4 separate regions of the Homo sapiens genome follow, and all the other regions are reported to be linked to region 1. The links are microRNA targets in miRTarBase. Many come from high-throughput screens and were not tested one by one. Region 1 holds a microRNA gene; each other region holds the end of a gene's coding sequence.

The links. The annotated mature microRNA hsa-miR-143-3p reads UGAGAUGAAGCACUGUAGCUC and lies in region 1 at 4,624-4,644, opposite strand. An mRNA with a match to its seed (bases 2 to 7 or 8) in the 3' UTR can be bound and repressed. Matches are read on the target gene's strand: a 7mer-m8 pairs with bases 2 to 8, a 7mer-A1 pairs with bases 2 to 7 and ends in A, and an 8mer does both.
Region 2: the mRNA of LRRC2 is a reported target of hsa-miR-143-3p. Seed matches in the 3' UTR shown: 7mer-m8 at 2,576-2,582 and 7mer-A1 at 3,812-3,818.
Region 3: the mRNA of RAB33B is a reported target of hsa-miR-143-3p. Seed matches in the 3' UTR shown: 7mer-m8 at 2,066-2,072.
Region 4: miRTarBase lists PPP2R5E as a target of hsa-miR-143-3p. Seed matches in the 3' UTR shown: 7mer-m8 at 3,811-3,817 and 7mer-A1 at 2,737-2,743.

What each region holds. Positions count from the first base shown.
Region 1 is chr5:149,426,498-149,433,621 of GRCh38, reverse strand. MIR143 (microRNA 143) reads right to left here and starts at 4,704; the gene lies at 4,599-4,704. It overlaps CARMN (cardiac mesoderm enhancer-associated non-coding RNA), which reads right to left. Exons shown (of 5, transcript NR_105060.1): 4 at 4,583-4,739; 5 at 786-904. MIR145 (microRNA 145) reads right to left here and starts at 2,976; the gene lies at 2,889-2,976. RefSeq lists enhancers at 1-325, 2,342-2,636.
Region 2 is chr3:46,512,671-46,519,794 of GRCh38, reverse strand. LRRC2 (leucine rich repeat containing 2) reads left to right here. Exons shown (of 9, transcript NM_024512.5): 9 at 732-4,410. The coding sequence ends at 781. Among named protein-coding and RNA genes, the nearest start is that of RTP3, 18 kb to the right of the region's middle. RefSeq lists a silencer at 2,502-2,796.
Region 3 is chr4:139,471,902-139,479,025 of GRCh38, forward strand. RAB33B (RAB33B, member RAS oncogene family) reads left to right here. Exons shown (of 2, transcript NM_031296.3): 2 at 785-4,708. The coding sequence ends at 1,225. Among named protein-coding and RNA genes, the nearest start is that of RAB33B, 21 kb to the left of the region's middle.
Region 4 is chr14:63,370,335-63,377,435 of GRCh38, forward strand. It overlaps PPP2R5E (protein phosphatase 2 regulatory subunit B'epsilon), which reads right to left. Exons shown (of 14, transcript NM_006246.5): 14 at 1,030-5,774. The coding sequence ends at 5,675. Among named protein-coding and RNA genes, the nearest start is that of GPHB5, 55 kb to the left of the region's middle.

The DNA.
Region 1 (7,124 bases):
GGTGAGAGTGAGTTCTCATGAGAGCTGATGGTTTTAAAGTGTGGCACTTCCTCGCTCTCTCTCCCCGCTGCTGCCATGTAAGACGTGCCTTGCTTTCCCTTCCTCTTCTGCCATGACTGCAAGTTTCCTGAGGCCTCCCCAGCCATGCAGAACTGTGAGTCAATTAAACTTCCTTTCTTTATAAATTACCCAGTCTCAGGTGGTATTCTTTATAGCAGTGTGAAAACGGACTAACACAGTGGTTTTTCAGGTGGTGTTTTTTTTTCCCCTCAAAATATGGCAGTTTGGAGGATCACGCCAAGGCAGATAACCATGTGAAAAGTGTCCTCATGTGCTGGCCACGCTGCCTATGGCACAGCTAATGTCCAGTGTTACTGCAGGGCCTGGCTAATGTCCAGAGGCCACTGTGAATCCAAACACCTGTGTGAGATGTGAACTGGCTTCACATTTCACACTCTTTCTTATTTGACCTGGTCAGTCACACCATTGTGACTGACAGAGAGGGGTTGCCACATGGCTAGATCCCAAGTGCCCCAAGAAGCCCTCACTGAGCTTCAAGGGACACTCTCCATCCCCTAACCCTCCATACCAGGGAAGCATCCCCAGACATGGCTGCTTCCTGGGGCCTCCAACTGCCAGGATGTGGGTCCTGACTGCTATCTATGTGGCCTCCCAAAGTGGCTGTGTGGAGCCACTTGGGGGTGTTCAGCTGGGCCTGTCAGGTTCTTTCCCTGCCTTCGCCACCTCCCCCCTTCCCCAAATTCCCAGAAAGAAACAGGACAGGAGCCAAGGGCTGGAACTTTATTATTGTCACAGAGCACAGGAGAGACCGCTTGGGTCTCAATGAAGGTTTGCTTTTCCTCTTCTCCAGGGGAAGCTACTGCAAGAAGGCCCACCAGCCAGGCTAGGTCAAATGGGGTTGGGGCCACAACATGATAGTTAAACCCATAAACACAGACTTGATTCGATCCCAGCTTCACGACTTCTTAGCTGTGTGACCTTAGGTAAGTCTGTTAACCTCTCTCAGCCTTGGCTTTGTGGAGTGGAGTGAAGAGCAGGGCCTGCTTCACTGGGGTGTTATCAGGATGGAGGGGGACAAGGCCTATGAAAGTGTTTAGCACAGCGCCTGGCAGATCGTGACCAGTCACGGAGTGGAAGCTATCATGATCAAATCTGATTTCTCCACGGTCAGGCCAGCCCTGTCACTACGGATGAGGAAGAGGGGGTCTCATTTCATAAATGCCTTCAATGCGGCCTGTGAGAAAGACAGCTTGGGACACCTGTGTGAGCTGCCTAGTCTCTGGCAATGTGGGAGTCGGACCCAAACATGAGGGTTCTGGGGCCTTGGCACTTACTACCATTTCTACATCTCCATGAAAAGCCCTAGCAAGAGTACGGGGAAAGTTCTAATTTTTTTTTTTTTGAGACAGAGTTTCGCTTTTGTCCCCCACGCTGGAGTGCAGTGGCGCGATCTCAGCTCACTGCAACCTCTGCCTCCCGGGTCCAAGCAATTCTCCTGCCTCAGCCTCCTGAGTAGCTGAGATTATAGGTGGCCACCACCATGCCCAGCTAATTTTTTGTATTTTTAGTAGAGACGGGGTTTTGCCATGTTGGGCAGGCCGGTCTTGAACTCCTGACCTCGTGATCCACCCGCCTGGGCCTCCCAAAGTGTTGGGATTACAGGTGTGAGCCACCGCGCCCGGCCGGAAAGTTCTGATTTTGCACCTGGATTACATTAGGTCTTCTGTCATTCAGTTAGTTAGCATTCTCTATAGGCAGTCAGAGAGGCTGACTTTTAAAATTATTTAGGTATTTTTTAGAGACAGGGTCTCCCTATCTTGCTCAGGCTGGAGTGCATTGGCTATTCACAGGCACAATCATAGCTCTCTGCAGCCAGGAACTCCCAAGCTCAAGTGGTCCTCCCCCGTCGGCCTCCTCAGTAGCTGGGACTGTAGGCACTCACCACTGTGCCTGACTTTTTATTTTTGTAGATTTTGCTTTTGGCTAAGAAATTGCCATAGGCCATTGGACTTGAAATCAGCGCTGGCCCTGCCTTTTGCTGTCTGGGCGACCTTGGGCTGGCCACTTTACCTCTCTGAGCCTCACTGATCCCACAGATCTACGTAAGGAGGGCTTTGAGGATGAACCAGCCTGTGGAAGTAAATGAGAGGAAGTGATGGGGGCATTGCTGGTGGTGCAACAATGGAGAGGGTTTCAGTAGTCACTGGCTCAAAAGTGAGGGGGCAAAAGGAACCTCAGTGTGTGTGTGTGTGTGTGTGTGTGTGTGTGTGTGTCCAACGTCTTGTAGCAAGGTTAGCAATCACCATGTGTAGGGGAAGAGCCATAGTGTTCCTAGGGTGGGTAGAGATGCCACAAGAGGGCGTTCTGAGTTTTCATCTTCTCTACCTTGAAAAATTTTCCATTTGTTCTCTGGCTGCATTCCAAATCGAACGAAGACTTAAGGTTTTTAGTTTACCTAACTGATTGAATACACTTTTAAAATGAATTCATGTGTGTTTACTAGTTTATCAGTCATGTGGATGCAATACCGCAGCCCCTGTCGCAAGGCGCGTTGGGAAGTGGGTTGAGGGTGTGGTGGAGACAAGAAACGCATGCCTGATGGTGTCCTGGTTCAACCGCTGCTCAGCCGGGTGGCCTTGGACAAATTTCCCAAGAGTACGGCAGTGCTGAAGTTCCCACATCCAGCCTCACAGGGATGTTATGAAATAGACACGATGGAAAGAAAAGCAACGCAAAGGTTTGGAACATGGTTCATAAGCCCTCTTACCTCCAGGGACAGCCTTCTTCTTGAACCCTCATCCTGTGAGCCAGCCGAGGCCCCATTGGGGGGCAACTGTGGGGTGGGAAGGAGGCAAATCCAGCTGTGAAACCATGACCTCAAGAACAGTATTTCCAGGAATCCCCATCTTAGCATCTAAGGGATTCCTGGGAAAACTGGACCGTGAGGACAAGGTGGGAGCGAGTGGCCTTCAGCGCCAAGGCCGCCGTGTCCCTAAGGACCAGCTGGAGTTCTCTTCTGCATCCAGCCCCATCTGTAGCAGCCAGGGTGGGGTGCCACACGTCGCCGGATGTGGCTTATTGCTCTGGGGGGGAGTAGTGACCGGAACTTCAATTGCCCTGAAAAGTACCGGAAACCCTCTGGCGCCCCCACCCCCAGGACTGCCCTCTGCTGTCTGCACGGCTCATGTGTATTCCCCAGTCTCCTGCCAGAGGGGTGGATTTAAACCAACCATTCAGTTCCTAGCCTGGGTTTGGCAACTTCCTCTCTGATAACCTCCAGTAAGTCACTTAACCCCTGAGCCTTGGCCTTCTTTAATTATAAAATGCATGAGTCCACGACCTACTGGAGAGGTGAGATGAATAAGATTGGGGGAAGGGGGTAGGAGGAAGGAAGCCTGTAGTATTAATGGCAAGTGTCCGGGTCTGTCTTTGCTAAAAGTGACCTGAGATGTAAAGACAAGATGGGAGCAGAATTTAGAATGTTCTCCTCCTGCTCCTCGGTCCCAGGTTCCATAATCACATGCAATGGGTAAAAACATGGATTTGAAGGCAGATTAGGGTACAATCTCAGCTCAGCACAATCAATATGTGACTTTAGGTGAGCTGCTTAAATAAGCCTCAGTTTTTCTCATCTGTAAAATGGGGCTATAACACCACCCACTTCCCAAGCTTTTGGGGAGGTTAAATGAGACTGTGCTTGGCTCCATGGCTCTCCTCTGCTGCTCATTGTGCTTCTGAAGCCTCTGGGAGAAGTCAGACATTTGTGACGTGCCTGGACTGGTTTCGGCAATACCCCGGAGCCAAGGTTAGAAGTACAGAGTGAAGACCCTGACTCAAAGGCCAGAATTTTTATCTTCAGGGCTGAAAGGGTTTTTAGGAATTGTTTGATCCACAAATGATGAATGAGTTTCAGCTGTGAATCAGTACTAGTGGCTTTCCAGGGCTCATTGTTGAGGATTCTGAAGCTGCATCTGAGCACTTCAAGAATGGATGCCTGGCGGGGCGTGGAGGCTCATGCCTGTAATCCCAGCACTTTGGGAGGCCGAGGCGGGCAGATCACCTGAAGTCAGGAGTTTGAGACCAGCCTGGCCAACATAGTGAAACCCCATCTCTACTAAAAATACAAAAATTAGCCAGGTGTGGTGGCGCACACCTGTAATCTCAGCTACTTGGGAGGCTGAGGCACGAGAATTGCTTGACCCTGGGAGGAGGAGGTTGCAGTGAGCTGAGATTATGCCACTGCACTCCAGCCTGGGTGATGGAGTGAGACTGTGTCTCAAAAAAAAAAGAATATATGCCTTTACTGATTAGCTGTGTCTGCCATGGGCTCAGAAAGAGAAAGCAGAGGCAGGGTGCTGGGGAAATGCTAACGCCTCATGCTAAGATGGACACACTGGGGTACACAGAGGAGTCAGGACATGCCCAGACTCGTGAAGCAGATCGTGGCACCAGGGGAACTTGTGTAGAGGAACTTCCCCAGCATCACAAGTGGCTGATAGTATGGAGTCTGGAAACACTCTGTCCTTCCTGTTATGGCCCCCCACAACCCCCCAGCACTTACCACTTCCAGGCTGATGGCTGCAGAACAACTTCTCTCTTCCTGAGCTACAGTGCTTCATCTCAGACTCCCAACTGACCAGAGATGCAGCACTGCACCTCAGGCTGGGAGACAGGGCGCTGCGCTGCTCCGCTCTGGTGGCCTGTGGCGGGACTCCAACCTGGCCAGGAGAAGGGGTGTTAGAGGGGACCTGGGCTCCACCTCTCCAGCTCTGGCCGGGAGGCTGTTGTAATTCCTCACAACTGTGTTTCCTGTCTGTGGCCTGCCATTTGAGCACCCAGGACCAAACCTTGACCTTTTTTCTCTTCTTTTCTTTGTTTCTTTCCTTTTCTTGTCAAGAACAGCTTAATTTAGAAGGAGGACATTTAGTGAGTACAATTAACAGGTTTTTAATATATTCACAAAGTTGTGCAAACAATGGCACAATATATTTTAGGTTATTTCACCATCCAAAAAAGAAGCTCCTTATCCTTAGACAACCCCTAGTCCTGGGCAGACCAGTTTCTATCTCTATAGATCTGTCTATATATTTTCTGGATATTTCAATACATGGAATTATTTAATATGTTGACCTACCTTTTGATGCCATGCCCCACCTTTATGCTTGGCGCATTCCAGCCTAACAGCATCATTCATGGTACTTAACATTTTATATCATCGAGCAATCAATTGTCTCCAACCTATCTTTCTTCTGCCACTCCTCCTCTCTTCCCAGCCATCTTCCCATAATGATTTTTCAAGATGCAAATATGCTCATATCTTACTCAAGTTTAATATCCCAAAAGGGCTCCCCATTGCCCTCAGGCTGAATTCTGAAGCCCTTCCCAAAGCCTGCGAGGGTCTGCCGCATCTAGCCCCAGTGACCTCTTCCTCTTGGGCTACAGCTCATAGATGTCCTTCCATTCTCCTAGGGAGCCCTGTGCCCACCCACTTCGGGCTCCCAGGGACTGTGCTGCTCCCCGTCACTCTCCCTGCCCATCTCTTCCTCCTGTGCTAGGTCTCTAATCAAGTGGCCACTCTGGGAAACCCTCCTTGACTTTTTTTTTTTTTTGAGACAGAGTCTCCCTCTGTCGCCCAGGCTGGAGTGCAGTGACACGATCTCGGCTCACTGCAAACTCCACCTTCCGGGTTAAAGCAATTCTCATGCCCCAGCCTCCCAAGTAGCTGGGACTACAGGCGTGCACCACCATGCCTGGCTAATTTTTGTATTTTTAGTAGAGACAGGGTTTCACCACGTTGCCCAGGCTGGTCTAGAACTCCTGACCTCAGGTGATCCACCCGCCTTGGTCTCCCAAAGTGCTGGGATTATAGGCATGAACCACAGTGCCCAGCCCCTCCTTTACTTCTTTAGCCATCAGCACCCCCTGCTTCATGTTCTCGCCCACCCGGTGCCCTCTTTCTAACCCTTTACCATGCTGGTAATGTGGTTTTCACTTACGACCACCTCCACTTGTGGACTACATGGCTCACCTGTGAAGGGAAGGGACCCTGTCAACTGTGCTCACTACTGAAATCAGGGCCAGGTGGTGTAGATGCCACATAAGCCCAGGTTGAATGGCTGAATCATAATTCCCAATCTCATTATCTCTAGTATCAGTGTTATTTGTGTGTGGGTCTGACCTGGCTAGATCTCCACTTCCTGAGGACAGTGCCTGTGTCTTGTTAATTTGGGGGGCCCTGGGTCTGACCTGTGGCTTGGTACATGATGATGGACCTAGGTAATGCCATTTGGTGGCTGATTGGATGACCATGTAGATAATTCATTTTGTTTTCTGGGCCCGGCTTGGGTGGGAACTTTCAGGTGAGCAGGCAAAGCCCCTTCTCACTCTTCCTGCCCTGCCAAGATCTCAGGGCACCCCAGAGGACCTTCTTGCATTGCTTAGTGGTCACTGTGGTGGCCTTGATGTTGGATGACATATATTTTCAGGAATGTCTGAAGGGGATGGGTAGCCTTTCTTCAGGGCTGAGAGAGAACAGAAAAAATATACCTCCTTAAAAAAACAAAAACAGAGCTGGGAGCAGTGCTCATGCCTGTAATCCTAGCACTTTGGGAGGCTCAGGCAGGAGGATCGCTTGAGCCTAGAGTTCAAGATCAGCCTGGGCAACATGGGGAGCCCTTGTCTCTAATAAAAAAAAAAAAAAAGGCTGGGAGCAGTGGCTTACACCTGTAATCCCAACCCTTTGGGAGGCCAAGGTAGGCGGATCACCTGAGGTTGGGAGTTCGAGACCAGCCCGGCCAACATGGTGAAACCCTGTCTCTACTAAAAATACAAAAATTAGCCAGGCGTGGTGGCGGGAGCCTGTAATCCCAGCTACCTGGGAGGCTGAGGCAGGAGAATGGTTTGAACCCGGGGAGGTGGAGGTTGCAGTGAGCCGAGATCTTGCCATTGCACTCCAGCCTGGGTGACAGAGTGAGACTCCGTCTCAAAAAAAAAAAAAAAAGTCTGTCTCTTACACTCAGTCTGGGAAGAGTGGAAAGAGTGTTTCCCTCTGGTCTATCATGCCAGCAGGCAGGTCAGTAGGTCAGTTCTGACAGCCTGTGTAG
Region 2 (7,124 bases), not on the chromosome of region 1:
AGATTTAATCTGCCCACAAGGGCCTACAACTTTGTGTGATTCAAGAAGGATAAGGATGTGAAGCCCTCACTGGTCCTCAAGCTTTAGTGAACATAGGAATGAGAGTTTTTACTCATCAGGCCTGGGGCAGGGCCTGAGAAAGTACACTTCTGACCAGCTCGCTGGTGATGTTGATGCCTTGTGTCTGAGAAGTACACTTTGAGAGCCATTGGTATAGACCATCCTTTGACAAAACTTTGGCTGTGAAGGGAGAGAGAAGAGGGGTCAGCAACTAGTGGGAAGAGCCAGGCTGAGAGAAGGTTTACTTTCAAAGATGGTGTATGGTTTAGGAACAGCCCAAACTTCTCTTATAAACGGTACCCTCTGCCACCTACTAGCCACAGTCCCAAGTCCGTGACCATCTATTTCTATTTTGTCAACTATTAATACTGTAGGGTCATATAGCTTCCAAGATCTTGATGTAGCTGTGAGTTGGCTGGAAAGATGGCAAAAGAATGAAAGTTAACGATTCTTAGATCTAAACATTTCTAAAGTTTGACTGCACATTTGTGATGACTTACTTAATGGTGACAAATGCATTATTTATCACCTATACAGTATCTCTATACTTAAAACATGAAGTGACAATAATGGGTGTATTGACATACATTCATTATGTATGTCATAGCACGTAGCTAGATTTCATAATAAAATGGTGAATGATTGAGCATACTTTTTTCTTTCTGTTACAGAATCTGTTCCCAGCTATACCACCAAAGTGTCTTTTAGCCTTCAACTTTGATATCCATCAGAAGACTGCAAATCTCACTATTCTCTGGAGCTATATATAAATCTTTGTTATGATCATGTCATATAGGAAGAATGGCTTGTGCTTAAGGACAAAGTCTAGAAACCACTATCATAGTTGCTAAAAAAAATGGTTTTCAAATGTCAAATACATGAGTATCTCCCTCCATGGACTGGAGAATTGAAAAATTGGTTTGTATATTGATATTTCCAGGTTCATTTGCATATACTTTTTTCCAAATAATGCACATTTAATATGTTTTAAAATGTCTTATTTTTAAGAATTATAACTAAAAGACCAAATACTGAAGTTAAGTGCATTGTTTTCAGGAATCAAAAGATAAAGGGGCCGGGTGTGGTGGCTCACACCTGTAATCCCAGCACTTTGGGAGGCCGAAGTGGGTGGATCACCTGAGGTCCGGAGTTCGAGGCTGGTTTGGCCAGCATGGCGAAACCCCATCTCTACTAAAAATACAAAAAATTAGCTGGGCATGGTGGCAGTTGCCTGTAATCCTAGCTACTCAGGAGGCTGAGGCAGGAGAATCGCTTGAACCTGGGAGGTGGAGTTGCAGTGAGCCGAGATCATGCGACTGCACTCCAGCCTGGGTGACAGAGCCAGACTCTGTCTCAAAAAAAAAAAAAAAGAAAAGAAAAAGATAAAGGGATTGTGAAAAGAGCATTTATATTGGACTAATCAGATGAGAGTGTTTTGTTATTTTGAAAGAGTTTCTTTTACTGAGAATAATCTTCCTTGAGTTTATATAAACTGCTATTTCCATATGTTTTAAGTTATATTTTGGCAAGTGTAGACTCCCAGGAGAGACTTGTAGGTACAATCTAGGCCTTGAAGAAACAAAGGCTGGAATATCTGCCCATGCTTTGGGCATGAGATGCTCAGATGGTGCGTGGGTAGATCTAGTTGAGGAAGTGTGGGCCTGGCTGTTCATGGGAAGTCTTCAGTGGCCTTCATGGATGGCCATCCAGTCCTGAGTGGTCACCCTGGGGGTCCTGGGACACACCTCAGTAAAGAGCAAAGGCAACGCCCTCAGGGTCCCTTCCTCCAAGATGGCCATGTAGGGTAATGGAGATGACCAGTCCACACTGATAAGGAGTTCCTAGCAAGGCTTCCTTGTGGGTACCACAGGACAACTCTGCCCATAGCAAAGATGCTTCAGTCCAGAGGGAGCCCATGGGCTGTTTGAATTTGGGAGAGGTGGGATTCATTACAAGACTTTGGGCTCTTATGTCACATCACATGATTTGGAGAAATTAGACACAATCTCTTATTTTTATACCACTGTCTTGGGCTAAAATAAACAGGTTGTGGCTGATGGTGTTGAAGATAAATAAGCTTAAACAAATAACTTTGGCCGGGCACGGTGGCTCACACCTATAATCCCAGCACTATGGGAGGCTGAGGCAAGCAGGTTGTTTGAGCCCAGGAATTTGAGAACAGGATTTTGAGAACAGCTTGGACATCATGACGAAACCCCATCTCCACAAAAAAATTCAAAAAATTAGCCAGGTGTGGTGGCATGTGCCTGTGGTCCCAGCTACTCAGGAGGCTGAGGTGGGAAAATCACTTGAGCCCAGGAGGTCGAGGCTGCAGTGTGCTGTGATTGTGACACTGCCCTCCAGCCTGGGTGACAGAGTGAGACCCTGTCTCAAAAGCAAAACAAACAGCAATAACAATATTATTATTGTTATAACTAAAAAAAAAAAAACAAAAACAAGCAGCTTTTGTGACTAAGAAGGAAAATATGCATATAGTGGCATATTTTTATATGAATCATCTCCTCTGTGGTCTTGCCCAGTACCATCCAGTGGAGCTTTCTGCAGTGACGGAAATGTTCTGTATTTGCGTTGTCCAACGTGGTAAACCAGACACATGTGATTCTTGAGCACTTGAACAATGACTGATGTGATTGAAGAACCCATCTTTCAATTCAATTAAATTTAAATAGCCACATTTAACTCCAGCCTTGGGTTTGACCTGATGGAAAATTCCCATGAGAGAGTGCTCCAAACCGTTCCAAGGTGGGGCCAGTTGCGATTCTAAAGGAAGAAGCACTAAATGGCAGGGTGATCAGTCCAAAGCATTTATGAGGGGAGCTTACATACAGCATGGGCTGCAGCGTCCTTGTGATGGGCAGTGAGACAAGGGATGTTCTACCTGGGCATGTCCCCAGCGAGGGGGTTGGGGGATGGAGTTCACATGAAGATGTAAGGAATTTGGGTGGGGGCTGGGCTGGCTTCTACATGTTTAGCAACACGGCTGATCTTTCAGTGTTTCCAGCAACAACCTAAGCACCGTTATCAGTGCCTAGGAATGTTCAAGGCCCAGGCTGGGGTTCAGACCTGCAGAGGAAAACATCAGCTGGCTGGGTCAAGGCACCATGTGTTACTTGGTCAGGACAGAGACAAAAATGAGGAAAACTAGGGGACCCCACACACATGTGGCTACCATACTCCTGAACAGGTCTAGCTAGTTATTTGTTTTTTTGGAAGTTAATCTGGGGTAGAAATGTATGGTGATTTTTATTTTCTCTGTCTGAAGAACCAGCCATTTTTAAAAAGGTTATTATTGACATCCCAATATTTTGTCTTGGTGGGCTTACTCATAAGTCCAAACATTTTATTCTCAACAGGTGTAAAACAGGCAGAGCATTCTAAAACCACATGGTAGTGCTTTGGTGGAGGACTGCTTCCACTTAGAAACAAACTCTGAGAAGTAGGCTAAGAGAAGACAAGAGGGCCGGGCGCGGTGACTCACGCCTATAATCCCAGCACTTTGGGAGGCCGAGATGGGTGAATCATGAGGTCAGGAGTTCGAGACCAGCCTAAACAACATAGTGAAACCCTGTCTCTATTAAAAATGCAAAAAATTAGCCGGGCGTGGTGGGCACCCGTAATCCCAGCTACTCAGGAGGCTGAGGCAGGAGAATTGCTTGAACCCAGGAAGCAGAGGTTGCAGTAAGCTGAGATCCCACCATTGCACTCCAGCCTGGGCAACAGAGTGAGACTCCATCTCAAAAAAAAAAAAAAAAAAAAAAAAAGAGAGAGAGATGAAAAGAGTAGGAAAATGAGAAATCACCTTCGTTGAATCTTAAATAGTTACATTTTTTTCTTTTTAACACTAAAAATACAATTCAAATTTATTAGCTCTACTACTTGAATGATTTTGGAATTTTATGTCATGCTAAGGTATGTGTTACATATGGCCAAGTGGAAAATATATCTGAAGAGGGGCTTTCATACAAATAGACTGTTCATAATTTATGTAAATTTTATTTTAATAAAATCAGTTTTTTGTTTAAAAACCTTGTTTCACTGTCACATATGAAAAAAATACTGCATTGATATATAATTATTTCATGTTACATAATAACCCAAAACAAATAATTACTTGAATATGTTTGTAGAGATACTATTTAATTTATTCATATAAATGTGCAGAAAGATTCCAAAGGAGAATATATATCTTGTGAAAATATGGAGATTTGAAAATTTGACATGATGCAAATAGACTGATACATAATTTGGAAAGGTTATTTACATGGCAGAATACATGTATGAATATTAAAGTAATATGAATGAAAGAATAAAATATTCTTAGAAGAAAAATGTTCTGGTTCTAAAAGCTTTTTATTAAACCTATTTTTTGTATGTTGGAAGTGTAGGGGGGAAAAGATTTTTTTTGCTCGTCTGTTGCTAGGTTCATGGCTGAGACTCCTGTAACAAAAGATGGATTAAGAAGTGAAAATAGCATACAAATATATTTAATATAAGTTTTATGCAATATGGGAGCCTTCAAAAATGAAGGCCCAAAGAAACAGGTAAATTTGTGTTTTTTTTTTTTTTGAGACAGAGTCTCGCTCTGTTACCCAGGCTGGAGTGTGGTGGTATAATCTTGGCTCACTGTAACCTCCACCTCTCGGGCTGAAGCGATTCTTCCACCTCAGCCTCCTGAGTAACTGGGATTACAGGTGTGCGCCACCACGCCCAGCTAATTTTTGTATTTTTAGTAGAGATGGGGTTTCACCATGTTGGCCAGGCTGGTCTTGAACTCCTGACCTCAAGTGATCCTCCCGCTTTGGCCTCCCAAATTGCTGGGATTACAGGCATGAGCCACTGTGCCTGGACAACTAGTGCATTTTTTAATACTAGGTTTGATAATGAAGTGCATAGTTGTGGAAAAATATGATTGGAGGACAACACGGTGTGATCTAATAGCAATACGCTGGGGGAAACTTAACAAGGCCTGTCAGTTCAATTCTTCTTGGTGTCCCTGTGTCTTTGAGGATAAGGATGTTCCTATAATTCAGATACAGGCAGGATACCTCTGGAAGGGGGGGTCTTATGACCGACTGCAGGGAGGAAGGTCAGATAATTCTGTTATGGCCTACTTCAGGGGTGAAGGCTGAGAGGAAAGTCAGAGATACCTTCCTGCTTCTGCAGTTTTCTCAAATGCCAAGGCGCCATATTTTGGGATAGAATGTAATGAAGCCCATCAGAAGTGAAGGGGAAAAGGCACTTAGGTGAAATCCTTAAGTAGTGTATTGTAATTAATAGCAAGACTCACATCTGGTTTCTTGACTGTAGCTTTAATTTTATTTCCACTAGAATCTCTTTTAAATTTATTGATGGTTCTAGCCACCCTCCCCACCCACATGTTTCCTTGTTTGGGGTGTAATGGATCATGGAGCTAGTAAGCTATAAAGTAGTGAATTAAATCCTTACTACCGTATTCCTCCCAATTTGAATTGTGGAAGAATACAGCAGTCTTTTTTGTACAGAAAGAGACAAAAGGTCATTTTAATTTTAATAACTGGATATGGTAGGAGATGGTTCCTTCTTACTTTCTCACTTTTCTGTAGAAAAACCCAGCAAGCTTAGAGATCTCTAAGCTCCTCTGGCTTAGAGATGCCTCCTTCTGAAAGCTTGGCTGGTGTTTATCTGGGTCGTTAGAGCAGACGTTCACAAAATGGTCAGTTTTGTAAACTTTAAAAGGGAAAGGTTGAGGAAGTGGATATCCAATCCTATTGCTTACTGAGGTATGTATTCTAATTGGCTCAGAATGGATTATGTTTTCACCCAAAGACCATTCTGTATTTGAGCCAAAGTTTAGTGCTTTATAATTGTACTGAGGGTACTAATCCTTTTTAAAACGAGGATTTGGTTTTGATACATAGATGACTTATGTTTCTTACTCCAGCTTTGACCTTTAATATTGGCACCTGTTTCTGGTTTCTCCTCTATAGGGCAGCTCCACTTGGGAATCCCATTGACATCTAAAAGAAGTGTATTACAGGTGTGTTTATTTTCTTCCTCCATTTTCCAAAGTTACATGACCAATATTTTATGGGTCTTACAAATGTGTAATTCTATCTAATTTTCTTTTTGAAAAATTACCTATTTTAAAAAATCCACAGATCTTACTCATTTCTCTTTTCTTTAAAATATTTACTTGATTCTAATTTTTCCTGATTAATAAGGAGGACATTTTTTTCTAGTATCTCATCTTCCAGCTTCTCCCACACTACTTGTCAGTGGCAAGATCCGTCATCAAAGTCAGTTTAGACCACATAATAGCATTTCTTAGGATTTTGAAGGGCTTTCCAATTCTTTCTTGAGATTAAAGTTCTTGGCTGTAGTCTTCAGTGAGCTCACAAATAATCTAACTTCCATTTCTTTTATTGTTCTAATTATCCAAGTTTAAAAAATTATTGTCTAGTTTGTTTTCCTTATTTAATCGGTGCTATGATGTATAAATATTGTTTGTGATATTGCCTTGAAAGTGTGAATGTGCTTCATAAAATAGCATTTTCTAGAAATGCAAATCAAAATGACTACAAGATATCACTTCATACCCATACGTATGGCTATGTTAAAGGAAAACAAAAGCAGAAAATAACAAGTGTTTGTGAGGATGTAGAATAATTGAAACCCTTGTGCACCGTTGGTGGGGTTGTAAAATGGTGTTATCACTGTGGAAAACCATGATAGTTCCTCAAAAAAATTAAAAATAGACCTACCATATGATCCAGAAATCTCATTTCTGGGTATATACCCAAAAGGATTGAAAGAAGGGTCTCACTTAAAGTAAAATAAAAAAAAAAAAAAAAAAAAGAAGGGTCTCACTTAAAGTAAAATTAAAAAAAAAAAAAAGAAGGGTCTCAACGAGGGATATTTGCACATTCATATTCATAGCAGCTCAGTTCAAAATAGCCAAGAAGAGTAAGCAACACAGATGTTTATCAATGGATCAGTGGATGAATGGATAAACAACATGTGGAGTATTATTCAGCCTTAAGAAGGAGGGAAATTCTGACACTTAC
Region 3 (7,124 bases), not on the chromosome of region 1:
ATAGGGATCCAGCCTCATTTTTTGCATGTTGTCCAGCACTATTTATTGAAATGACTAATCTTTCCTGCTGTTGAATTTTCTTGGTAATCTTGTTAAAAATCAGTTGACCATAGATATATGGGTTCACTTCTGGATCCACAGTTCTGTTCCATTGATTTCTGTATCTGATCTTAGGCCAGTTTCACACAGTCTTGATTACTGTAGCTTTGTAGTAAGTTTTGACATCTATAGTTTTAAGCATTTTAATTCTATGTTGAGCATTTTTATTCATGATTTTTTTCTAGCCTTCTTAAGTTTTCAAGGGGTCCTGGATTTCATAGACATACACATACATGTATATGTTTGTTTGGAGGCTGGATCTCATAACAACATCTTTCCTAGGTTTAATATTTTAAATTAGACTAGTGAAAGGTAAAGAGGGGTGTATAGTAACCAAATTTACAGGAATTAAATGCTTAACATGTTAACACCTGATATATTTTTCTCTTAACATTTTAAAATAAAGTTTTGAGGTAAATTTTATTTAAACAAATTGGATTTACTGAAATTTAGAAAATCCTGTATTGAAATATTAGTTCCGACACTTGTATTATAATTTAATTGTGAGGTAACTGGTATCATGAAGTCTGGATCCCATAGGTAACACTGAAAAGACATTATGGAAGGGAGAAATCAAAATATTTTAAGTGAAGAGATAATAAAGACAATGCAAGATGATTACATTTCTTGATATGTATAATTGGAATGGGATTTTCAGTTTTCCTCTTTTTCTTCCCATTTTTAGATCCAGCTATGGGACACAGCAGGACAAGAACGATTCAGAAAGAGCATGGTTCAGCACTACTACAGAAATGTACATGCTGTTGTCTTCGTGTATGATATGACCAACATGGCTAGTTTTCATAGCCTACCATCTTGGATAGAAGAATGCAAACAACATTTGCTAGCCAATGATATACCACGGATTCTTGTTGGAAATAAATGTGACTTGAGAAGTGCCATACAGGTACCCACAGACTTGGCACAAAAATTTGCTGACACACACAGTATGCCTTTGTTTGAAACGTCTGCTAAAAACCCCAATGATAATGACCATGTGGAAGCTATATTTATGACCTTGGCTCATAAGCTTAAGAGCCACAAACCATTAATGCTTAGTCAGCCCCCTGATAATGGAATTATCCTGAAGCCTGAACCAAAGCCTGCAATGACGTGCTGGTGCTAAATAACAGTCTTTATTATATTATCTAATTTTGACTAAAGAAATACTTTTGAAGTATGACAGTATTAAGTCATAAGATTTAATCTCAACTATAATGGGTCATCTTGACACTTTGCTGTTTGTCATTGTCACGCTTTTGTATTTTGTATCTACTTAAGTTTGTCACTGTGACAACACAGGAAAAGTTGGTTTTCAGGTGAGATTGAAAATGAAGCAAAGATAGGATGAATCTGAACATCTCTCCATCTAGAGCCCAATGAAGGAAGCTTCAAATGAGAACATGATGGAATCAGTAACCATTCAATCTTTTGTCCTAGGATTGGAAAAAAATGTTAAAGGTTTAGGACACACCTAATAGTATGTCCTTTGAATGGGAAGTGTTCTTAATAGGATAAAAACTGGTATTTGCCTCTCCCCAGAGTACTTTTTTTGTTTTTTCATAGAGACGGGGTCTTGCTATGTTGTCCAGGCTGGCCTTGAGCTCCTGGGCTCAAGCAATCCTCCCACCTCAGCCTCCCCAGTACTGGGACTGTAGGTACTCACCACTGCATCTGGCCTTTCTTTGTTTTATTAACATATTTAGTTTTGTTATTATTGGTATGTTTTAGAGCCAAGACTTTAGTTCCAGTGGGATAAGAAGGCATAGAATGTTTTCTGGTTCCCAGTCCATAAAGAATGACTTTTCCAAGAGTTCTAGATGTTTGATTTTCTAATTAATACTTATCAGATCTACAAAAATCATTATTATTTTAAAAGAGTTATTTGAGTTTCTTTCTTTCTTTTTTTTTTTTTTTTTTTTTGAGATGGAGTCTCGCTCTGTCTCCAGGCTGGAGTGCAGTGGCGTCATCTCGGCTCACTGCAACCTCCGCCTCCCAGGTTCAAGTGATTCTCCTGCCTCAGCCTCCCGAGTAGCTGGGATTACAGGCGTGCACTACCACACCCAGCTGATTTTTGTATTTTTAGTATAGATGGGGTTTCACCATGTTGGCCAGGATGGTCTCGATCTCTTGACCTCATGATCCACCCGCCTCAGCTTCCCAAAGTGCTGGGATTACAGGTGTGAGTCACTGCACCCAGCCGAGTTGCTTTCTTACTAAATCCTATTAAAATATGCAAAAATAAGTCAGATTTTAAGGCAAATAAAGTGACATAAGGTGCTTTATATTTTATTTTGGTATATTTAAACAGTGAAAAACTAACTGAAAGCACATGAAGAGTTGTAACTTGGGGGAAAATAGGTAAACATAGCTTCTAGCTAACACAGGAGACCTATTCTTAGCCTTTACTAATTTCAAGCAGTGTATCCCATATGGTATCTCTTGCTCTTCCTTCAACTCCAATAAATTTAATGACTAAATGCCAAGTTAACAAATCAACTTCCATTTGGATTGTAGGTGTGAAGGCACAACTCTAATTGCTATTAGTCTACATGTATTTCTGTAATAGTATTGTGTCATATCAATTTTTAAGATGTCTAAATTTTATGGTCACAAGTTATCCCTCCTCAGTATGAAAAATAAATTAGATATTGAAAAATGTCTAAACTTCAGTGATGGAAAGAATATTTCAAGAAGTTTTTTAACCTAAATACTTTTATTTTGAATTTAAGTCTTTGCACATAAAATATAGCAAGCTTACATATTAAACTATTTACGTAAATGGAATGTAAGCCATGACTTTAACTGAAGTGTTCACATTCACTAATTTTGATAGATTGCTGTCCTTAATAATTTTGGAGGAAATTAAGCCAAATGATTATTGTACTACAGTATTTTCAGAATATGGGAAATCAATTAAAAATGTAATCTAATCTAGTTTAAGATTTTTGTTTAATCATCATGGTGGTCCTACCTGGATAATTTAACTATAAAGACAAAGTAATTCTATTAAATGAACTAACTGAAAATAATAATTATAGGAAGTGATTATTCCATTTTAAGTATTAGAGCTCAAATTGGCTTTATTTGCATTTAGGGAGATCATGTTTTCTTAATCATGCTGGAATTTAAAAATTGTTTTACTTGTATCGAAATTAACCTTGATTTATAACTATTTTTGTAATAAAACAATGACAGCTGTAGTAACTATGATGGGTGTAACAACATTTTTTTAAAGAAGGGAATCTGTTTATCGCTTTTCAAAATATTTTCTAAAGTGGGGGAAGAAAGTTTATAGACTTTCCAAGCACATTTATGGTTTTTTATTACTATTATTATGGTTTTAAAAAGAGTAACTTTATTTCTTTTTGTAAGGAATTAAGTAATATCCTTTACAGTTCTGTGAAAGGACTTATTTTTTAACTGTAATATTTATTAGTTTTAAAATATTTGTATCTCATTTGTAACAATTTGTTTTAATTTTTTATATATATGTTTTTATTTTTAAAAAACATACCAGTTGAATGGGGTTAAAGCTTTCAATATCTTAAAATATTTATAAAACATTTCACTGTTGCAAAATCACTTCCAAAATGATAGCTATCTAACAACTAATTACTAATTTTTAAAGAACAAATCACACATTTAAAAAATCTGTAGAATTTATTTTAACTATGACCTTTAATTGAAAATAAATAATTAAAATATCAGACATGTTTTGGAAAAGTCTTAATTTGAGAACACCAAAGGAAACTACCCCAGAATCTAATGTAGTTCGCTATTAATAACAATGCATTATTGAAAGTATATTGCAAATACATGTTTCCTCATGAAATCTAAGTAATTTTGTTGTGGAATAGTGTCACTGTTACATTTCCCCCATGAAGTTCAATAAACCAGCTTAGCCACAAAGAAATTGTGTTTTATTTTCTTTGTTTGGTTACTGGGTAGAGTATAAAATAAAACAATCTTTTTTTCCTCCTGGTTTCCAGATAATATTATATATATGATACACTTTTGAAAACAACAAAAAGCCCCCAACCCATTGGACAATTATTTTCTTGTATACATTTGAGGTCAAAGAACACTTCAGGAAAAAAACTCAACAAAGTATTAAAATTAGCTGATAACACAGCTTTTGTATTTGTGTGTTTTAGTAATCCAGCTTGTTTTAGAATAGTTCAGTGCAAAAAGCAAATGGTGCAAGAGGAGTTGATGTGTATTTAGACGTAAAAGCATTTAACAGAATGAATAACTATAGAAAGTATGAGAAAAGAGAACGAACTACGTCTCAGGTATAAGATTGCAGTTACTGATTTAGACACCATAGGATTAGGGATGTGGGGGCCTCTGATGTTGATTCTGCTTCCCCTGGTCAGTTTATTTTACGTATAAGTTACCCTTGTGTTCAAACACAAAATTGACATTATTCATGAAGGACTGCTTTCTTAATCAGATATTAAGAAGTTCGTCATGTATTTTGGGAGCACGTTTGCTACAGCCTGTGTGGCAAGGGCGAATGCACTTGGTTTGTTGGAATAACCTGATTTATCAAACATTTATCAAGTATGGGTCATGTGTTCTCTATTTGTGTTAGTGGAGCTACATAGACACTGTCCTTGAAGAACTTACAAAATAGTATATGAACAAATAGGAATTCTACAATATACTGTGATCAGTGTAATCAAAGAAGCATATACAAAGGACAATGAGCACAGAATATGGAGTGGTCTTTTGACTTGGATATGGGAGCAGTAGATAATCAAAAAGCTTCACAATGAGTGGAAGCATTTATGCAGCATCTCAGGGTAAATGTGAGGCATTCTCCATGTAAAGGAGAGGGAAGAAAGTCATCCCAGGTGAATGCACTGCAGGGCTCAAGAGTGGAGTTGAATTTGGGGGGAATGACTGCTAGGTCAGTGTGAGTATGTGATAGAATGGAGATGTGGTCAGAACACGGAAATGAAGCTAGCAAGGTAGATTTTGGTTAAACTGCCAAGTTGCCATAAGCAGTGGGATTAGGACTGGCTTGGGTGCAGTATCTGAAACTCAGTCTGAACCAGCCTATAAGGGGGATTTTAATGTAAGGAGTCTGACTTGTCTCACTGGACTTGAAGACAAGGATGTGACTGGACTAAAAGAAGAGCTGGGATTGAGCACACAGTTTCCTAACTCTGGGTCCAGCTTCTCTGCACATCTGCATTTTCTCTTTCTTTTATAACTAGATTTTTCCATTTTTTAAGTTTAATTAGCAGAAAACATGGCCACTGAGTACTTCTGAACTTTTGGATGCTGCAGTCATTCAAAGAGAAATGAACTCTCAGTCTCAAGTTGAAATTTCCAGCATAGACTGTTAATTGGCCTGGCAAGATCCAGGTGTCCACCCAAGACCAATGGCCAAAAAAGATAAAATAAGCAATTTCCACATTTAGGGGAGAAGGTATTTTGGGGGAAGGGGAGCAAAAAAAGAAGATAGCCACACAAAAACATTTGAACTTTACTATTTAGGCAATGGGTAACTAATGAAAGCATTTTGCAAGGTAGTGAGACCGTTAGATTTATGCCATAAATTCCAGCGGCAATGGGAAGGGTGAGGGGATGAAGTCATGGTCAGTCAGCTTACTGAAATAGCCTAGAAGAAACAGCTTTAACTGGAGCACTGGCAGAAAAATACAGATTTGAGATATTTCAGAACTAAAACCCCCAGGAGTTAGAGACCAAGGTCAGGAATTTCATTGCATGAACTAGTCAGTATTCTTTTCTAGAGCTGCTAGTTGCACTCATGTATGTGGCCAAATGTTTTTTTAAAATATCAGGCTTTGGTTTTATTTTTTAGATTATTACATTGCTTTAATTTGCCTTTATCAAAAGTTTGATTCTTGTGATTTATTTACATATATGTTTTTCAGAGTGTTTTGAGTCAGATGAAACTTGTCATTTAAAATTTTTAAGTTGTATATCCTAATGCTTTTTGGTATTTTTCTTGTTCTGAGTAGTTTAATTATAGAAGATTCTGTATATTTTTGAGTCCCAGAACATTCTTTAAATTACAAAAACAATTCAACTTTTGTTTTGGTTATTCATTCCATAAACTTAACAGAGTATATGGAGCCATTTTATTACTTCTCAGCTCCTCATTATTAATCTTTTCTTGCTGCAAATGGAGAGTTCCATGTTTCAATAAAATGTGATCAGTAATGGGACTTCTTTTTTTAAGTTAAATTTTTGTATAGGAAATACATTCACATGGTTCAATACTTGAACCATTCACAAAAGAGTAAATGGTGAATTCTCCTTCCCACTCTTTCTCCCAGCTCCTCAGTTCTTATCACAAGGAACCAGTACCATGAATTTTTTTTGTTTCTGTTTTTGTTTTGAGACAGGGTCTCAATCTGCAACCTAGGCTGGAGTGCAGTGGTGTGATCTCAGCTCACTGCAACCTCCACCTCCTGTGCTAAAGCAATCTTCCTACCTCAGCCTACCAAGTAGCTGGGACTACAGGTGCACGCCACAACACCCAGCTAATTTTTTGTACTTTTTGTAGAGCCACGGTTTTGCCATCTTACCCAGGCTGTTCTGGAACTCCTGGGCTCAAGTGATCCATTCACCTTGGCCTCCCACCCCAGTTCCCACGCTGGGATTACAGGTGCGAGCCACCACACCTGGCCCCTGAATTTGCTGTTTCTTCACATAACAGTATACCCTGGAGATGAATTCATGTTAAAATATGTAAGCTTCATCATTCTCTTTTAGGTCTCATGGAATTCCTTTAGTTGGCCATTATTTAGATAGCCCTCTACTGATGAACATTTAGGTTGTTTCCAGTCTTGCTATTACAAGCATTACCAAAATGGATATCATTTTACATAAGTAATTTCTCAAATGTGTGAGTATATACAAAGGGAAAATTCCTAGAAGTGACATTGCTAGATGAAAGGTATCTGTGTTTGCAATTTGGGTTTCTAATCGCCCTCCTCAGAGGTTGCACTAGTAATAAAAAGCATGCCTGATTCCTCACACACTCA
Region 4 (7,101 bases), not on the chromosome of region 1:
TCTTTAGTGTACATTTACTTTGCATCCATTCTTGTAAATATTTACTTATAGACAGGAAGCAACATTATGCAAAGAATTAAATATTTTCTTAAAATCATCTCTTAAGTCTCTTGAACCCTAAAATTTTCTGTTACAAGTTTCTTATTTCTAACTTACCAAGAGGTTGATCTTCAGGTGCTACAAGTGGTTATGCTTTGAAATACAAAATTGCTGACATATACAAGGGCTTTTCCCTTCCAAACCCAGATTAATTTTAATATGAAATATTAATTGGTTAATTCCACATGGTTCCAATTTGATGTAATTTAATTAGCTAAGGGCGTAGATCACACCTAAATCAAATACTTTACAAAAAAAAAAAAAAACTATCCCATGGTAGCTTAAAGATAACTGCAAATCACTGAAAATACTTCTCATTGATTCACAGTGAGGACTATGCCCCCTCCACTTGAATCTGAGCAGGTTCTGTGACCGCCTGACCAATAGAATATGATGGAGGTGATGCCATGATAGTTTCTGGGCCCAGGCCTCAAAGAAGAGGCAGTTTCCACTTCCTGCCTCCTAGAACCCAGCTGCCATGCTGTGAGGAAGCCCAAGAAGAAAGTACTGTGAGGAAGAACTGAGACCCCTGGTTTAACTCCAAGCCAAATGTCAGCACTAACTTGTCAACCATGTAAGTGAGCCATGTTGAAAGTGAAGTTTCCTGCCCCACCTGTGACACCCTGGTTGACACTCGAGGATCAGAGACACGATGTTCTTGCCAAGTCCTTCCCAAACTATAGATTTGTGATGAGAATAAATTGTTGTTTTTCTAAGCCTCTACTTTTGGAGTAGTATGTTATACAGCAACCGATACTGGACCATTTCCCAATATTACATACTCATAATCATAAACTGACTTCTCAAAATGAAAGCCTGAACATACCAACCCCACTGCCTCAAAGCTAAGTTAATCAAATCTAATATTTGTATGGTTCAAAAGGCCACGGAGTTCAGAAACAAACAAACAAAAACAGCCAGGCACCTGAAAACTCTTCACTGCTTCTTTATTATGATGCACCCACAGTACAGAACCTCTCACACATCTGTGAAAGGGGAAGGTTACATTTCTTTTTGGGGAGCACCTTCATTTTTGTTTCTGTTACCACTTTGAAGAAAGCAAATCATTTCCAAAGAAAAACATTTTAAATTCCAAGTGTTTAAGACTCAGCTTGTATTTTGTGGTGTTTGAAAAGGAAGTAGCATGTTTTAGCCAGAGGTGGAAGATTGTTTTGTGGCATTTTAAGTTTGATGTGGATCAGAAGTCTTCACTGTCTGGTTGAACCAGTCTATAATTTTCATATGCAACTTTTCATATCAAAAATGTTTCATTTTTACCTCTACTCACAAAGAGATGCTGTTTAAAAAAACACACACACAGCTAAATTTAAAACCGATCATGAACCACAGCATTACTAACAGGGAAAATGAACTTTTGCTGCCCTCTCCTGCTAAAACAATGAAATACTAAAATACCAAAAGATTTATGAAGCTAAAGCGAAGTCCTCAAACCAAAAGCAACAGACATGTCATTCTCATTATACTTCAATCAAAAATCAGACAACAACCAGAAAATGCATTGGTAATATTTATATTTGAAAATTCCCCATTGATACATGAGGTTTGGATTACAACTTATTTACAATAAGTGATTTCAAAAAAAGTAAAGAAAGAGGAAGGGAAGAGGGAAGGAGGAAAAGAGAAGCTGAGAGAGAAAAAAAAAAGAGAAAGGTGGGGGAAGGAGGGAGGGAAGGAAGAAAAGGAAACCTATATTCATAGACATCATAATATGGGATGTTTATTTCCAAGAGAGATACTACTGCTGCTATCGTGCACAAGAAGCAGCACAAATTAACATTCCGCTAGATCACAATTTGCTCAACTTTCTCTCAAGATGCACAATCCTTCTTTTAGGTTTTCAAAATTAAATATAGAGGAATATAAAATGCAATGCCAATATACCTACTACAAAAATCTTTGTGGCTCATTCCTTAACTCCACTCAGAGAAGCAGCTGAGCCAGAATACAAAAATAAAAATATTGATGTGCAAATAAAACATCAGTGATCATGTCTGGTGCCACCTTTTTGTTACAGGTGACTGTCACTTTATGATAACATTGGTAATAGCATCAAAAGAGAATCTCTTCATTTCCTGGGCCAGGTCAGTGCATCCAATTAAAAGGAAAAAAGGAAAACAAGGAAAAAAAACCACCCCAAACCCCAAAAAACTCTAAACACTTAAAAATGCCAATAACATCCATACATCCCTTTCCCATCCCACCCTCATCCCCACAAAAAAATAAAAAAGCTTTTAAAGCTCTAAATATACTTTTTTTGTTTCTTTCCATAGTGTGATTGAGCCTAGGGCTATACATTTAAGTATAGCAGGTGCAATTACAAGCAAGTCCTGGCTCTGCACCCTGGACTATCCCACGCATAGGAGGTACAAAATAAATTAAACCCTTTCATTTAGGCAAACAAGCCCAAGATGAAGGAGCATAACCCTGCTTGTGAGTATCCAGTGGCATCGAGGGTATTATTTATTTCTTTTTTTTTCTTTTCTTTTATAAAAAACAGTCAAATGTTAGGGAGAGCAAAATATAATAAAATTTAAAAGGACAAAAACTCAACACTGAAGGAAAACAACTGGGGATACTTCACAATGAGAAACAGGAATGCATGCTTGATTCAAAGTATGAGATGGGTGAATTCACTCACATAGTTGTTCTAGGCCCACAGCCTAAGGCCTCAGCGTCATTCTAAACCACAGGGTTGTGTGTATTTTTCTCTTCCAAAGACACTCTTAATCCTATCCCTGAAACCAATATGGTAAGGATAAGGTTGGAGTGATCATCACTCACTAACTACAATATTTGCTATTTAAAAAATATATTTATATATAGTTCTGGAAATTATGAAGCAAACAAAATATAACACAAAGATGCATTTGTCACAATTAACTCAAGTTGCAGCAACAGCAGAATTGTGGGAAGGGACAGAGAGAGAGGGCTGCTGCAAATGCAGCAAGTACGTCCTGAAATATGTCACATAGTGCAACAGTCAGATTACCTCAGTTACTCTGCGTCACCGCACACAACATGACTAATGTCACATTGTCACTTTCCATTAAAAAAGAAAAAGACGGTGTTTCTTCTCAGAAGTTGCCCTACGAATTTTAGACATATAGCTTTAATTGATTCTATAAATATGTCTAAAATGTGGCTTTATTCTTCTCAGTTTGGAATGATCAACATACAAAATTGACATCAAGGAGGAGAGCTGTAAGTGTTCACCTTTACTCTTGAAGACAGGGTAAGGTACAAAAAAGGATCCTGGCCTTTCTCATTTCAAATGACTGCATTTCATTCCAATGAGCAGAGATTCTTCATAAACCTGTGATTTTAATGTCTTCTACCTAAAAAGATGAATTAATGGCAAACAAAAGTTTACACTATATAAACTAAATATAATGCAGAGTTGAAACTAAAGGGCTAAAATGACAAGGGCTAAAAAGGAGAAGATTTGTTACAAATTTATTTTTTATCACATTGTTCCAGCATTTTTAAAGTCAGTTGTTTCGTCTTTGGCAGCCTCTGCCAACTTTACAGTGAATCCCCATCAATGTTCTTTAAAAAAAAAAAAAAAAAAACTATTAATTCCATTAAACCATGTTGCGTCTGGTGTTGCATATGACTTTTTTTTTTTACTGCTTTTTTTTTTCTTTTTGGAATTAACAATGCCAGTTTTGTTTGTTTTTTTACAAAGTTACCGAGATGACAATATCCATAATTAGCTGACTCTTACGTACACACTGTGACCTGATCATCCTGAAAAACTTTATGGGGGAGAAAGGTCAGCAGCTTCTCTTTCTTTTTCTTGAAAATAATAAAACTGCGTATTCTACTTTATATTTAAATGTAAGGAAGAAAATATACAAGCCCATATTTATATTGTATTTCTATTAAGAGCAACAATAGTTCATATGTTCATGTTTGCTACTATCACAATTCAACATATGAACACAGATCAGCTCTATACCATGAATACTGCTGGAAGTGATGGTTTAGGATTACCAACTCACTGCTGCCATGACCAAAACAAGCAAATGCATCCTGGAAATAAACCTCCAAACACATATCTTTCAGTACGTAATAATGCAACTGCATTAGGTAAGTACATACTGTACACAAATTTTATCAGCAGTTTACCTACCCAAGATGTAAGATTCTTCATTTAAATACAAAGCAGAGAGCCAATAAGATATATATATATATATATATATATATATATATATAAAATACAGCCCTAGATTTTGTTTTTTTTGTTTTTTTTTCTTAAACAATTTGGTCACGATGCACCTTTGATATAAAAGCATTTTTAAACTTTATTATTAATACTCAGGACATTAGGAATTTCCAGATTTTTTTCAGTAGCATTTGTAGAACCACTTTTGGTAACAAATACAGTAGTTAGGAATATGCATCCAATTCAGAATGCATAATAATGTTTATCCTGAATCCTTTCCGGCTAAAAACAGGGCTGGCGCTGTGATGAGATATAGAACGAGAATCTACAAAAAACACTGTAACATGTTTGTTTTTTCCCAGAGGCTACATCCTCTTTTGCTGGAATACTTTATAAATACATATTAAAAAGTAAGGCAACAACTCCAAACAGTCCAAGCTGTTTGCTCAACTCTTTTCCCAATTAGATTTGCAATCCCGGTGATCAATTTCATGGTTGTATTGTTTAGTGTTTGTCTTTCTTATTTCAAATGGTCCAAAAGGATGTTTTTCTCACATTTCTAAAACATCTCTGGTATGTGTGTTCAATGATATATGCAACTAATACTGGTCAGGTACTGAAGCCTGTGATGTCCCAGTGCCTGTTTTCAAAGGATTCAAGACATTGATTTGGATTCACCATAAACTGATGCATGAATCCGATATTCCCTTCCCTACTATGTTTATCACCTCTTCTCTCTTAACTCCTAATTTTAAAACTAAAGGAGTACCAGGACTACCTGGTTACTGGAAAGATGTTCACCCCAGTAAACAAAACTTTTATCAGGGACTTTTATAATTCATGACCCCATTCCACGTGGACATTCAACTCAGGAAGATGTGCAAAAGAAAAAGATGTTAAATTACAGTCAAGTTATCCAGAGGAGGATGTTACACAAACTTATAAGGAAATGACAGTCTTTTTTTCTTCCTTTACTATAAATACATTTAACAGCTTAGCAGAAAGACAAGCTAAATTTAAGATTGTTCACATTTGAAAATTGTATCATACTCTCTGCTAGTGATAAATAAGGAACTCCCGATAATGGAATTTTAACATAGCAATTTCATCAACAGATCTTTGAAGACCGATTTTTTTTTTTAAAAGAGGGTGAGAACAATGATTATGTTTGCAAAGTTCTGAGAAGTCCATCTACTGTCCAAACTTTGGATTGAAGTCCTTATTTTGTTTTTTCCTTTACTTAGAGACAGGTATATACAGTGCTGCTGTAATAATGAAACAAAGGTGAAATCTACTGTAAAGTTGCACAATACAGAAAACTGTTGCTCCATCTTCTACTACATAAACGTGTGACTCCACAGGTTAGTAATGTTGTTGTCATTGTTTTTGTTAAGTTGGAATTATTCCATCACGTCTAAGACCTCTCTTTAACTCCAGATCCTCCAATTTTTTCCACAATTCTTCACGCTCCTTTTCTTTCTTTTTCTCACTGAGGAAGAAACAGAATACAATGTAAACAGCTGAGGTTTAATGAGATTATGCAACAATGAATATTTTACAATTTCACCTTAACACTCCTTTATACTTAGCTTAATTGAGAAAATTAACTTTAAAATTACTAAGAAACAAAAATGGGAATGACTTATATGCATCAGTTATTGTAAAATCAAGGGCATATTAGTGATTTTCACTTGCAGCTTAGTAAGAATCTTAATTTTTCTTTATCTCCAAATAGTTTCTCAAAAAGGATGCTGGAGATGACACTGATACAGAGAATATAGTAGGTCAAGAAAATATATCTGCTCCTTTATTCCTATTTTTCCCACCTCATGCATATTTAAATTCTTCAGTAGTTTAGAAGAAACTGAAAACTTGTGATTTCACTTTTAATGATCTGAAAAGAACTTGGTTGATATTATTAAGTATTAAATTTTAATGCATCAAGCCTTCAAATTGGGTTCAATATCAATTTCACTGATTTTAAATTTAGTGATTTTCAGACTTTGAGATTTCACTATTTGGTAAAACTTCCCCCAAAAATTAGATGTCCAAATTAGAATCGACAAACTTTATATTTTGCCAAGGACATTTTAAAATTACATTTTTACAAAAAAAGGATTTTTAACATCAACCAAGTAGGAAGTACATGATGCAGGAATATAAGACTATATTGTAAGTTATATAAATTCACATTTACTAAAAATAATTCACTACACTGTCTCTGGTTTTTTTCCATGTTGCAGCGAACCAATAAAAAGCAGACCCAGGCTGGGCGCAGTGGCTCACGCCTGTAATCCTAGCACTTTGGGAGGCCGAGGCGGGTGGATCATCAGTGAGACCCCGTCTCTACTAAAAATACAAAAATTAGCCGGGCATGGTGGCGTATGCCTAGAGTCCCAGCTACTTGGGAGGCTGAGTCAGGAGAATCGCTTGAACCCGGGGGGCGGAGATTGTGGTGGACGGAGATTGCAGCGAGCCGAGATCACACCACTGCACTCCAGTCTGGGGGACAGAGCAAGACTCCGTCTCCAAAAAAAAATAAAAAAAAAAAAATGCTGATCCAGATTAACATTCATAAATCCAGGAATTCAGATAATTCCTGAAAATGGGGGCTCCACCATCTCAGGCATGGGGATGTAATCCATGCACTACCCCACTTAGCAAGGATTAAAACTTCAGCCACAGTACAATTTCTACGCAGGGAAATCCACATGGGTTGAGTGAAATTTGTATGTAATTCCAATGCCTCATTTTTTTTAAAACATTATAACCAATGTTTTTTAAAAGTTATATTAATATCTAGAGCAATAGAGATT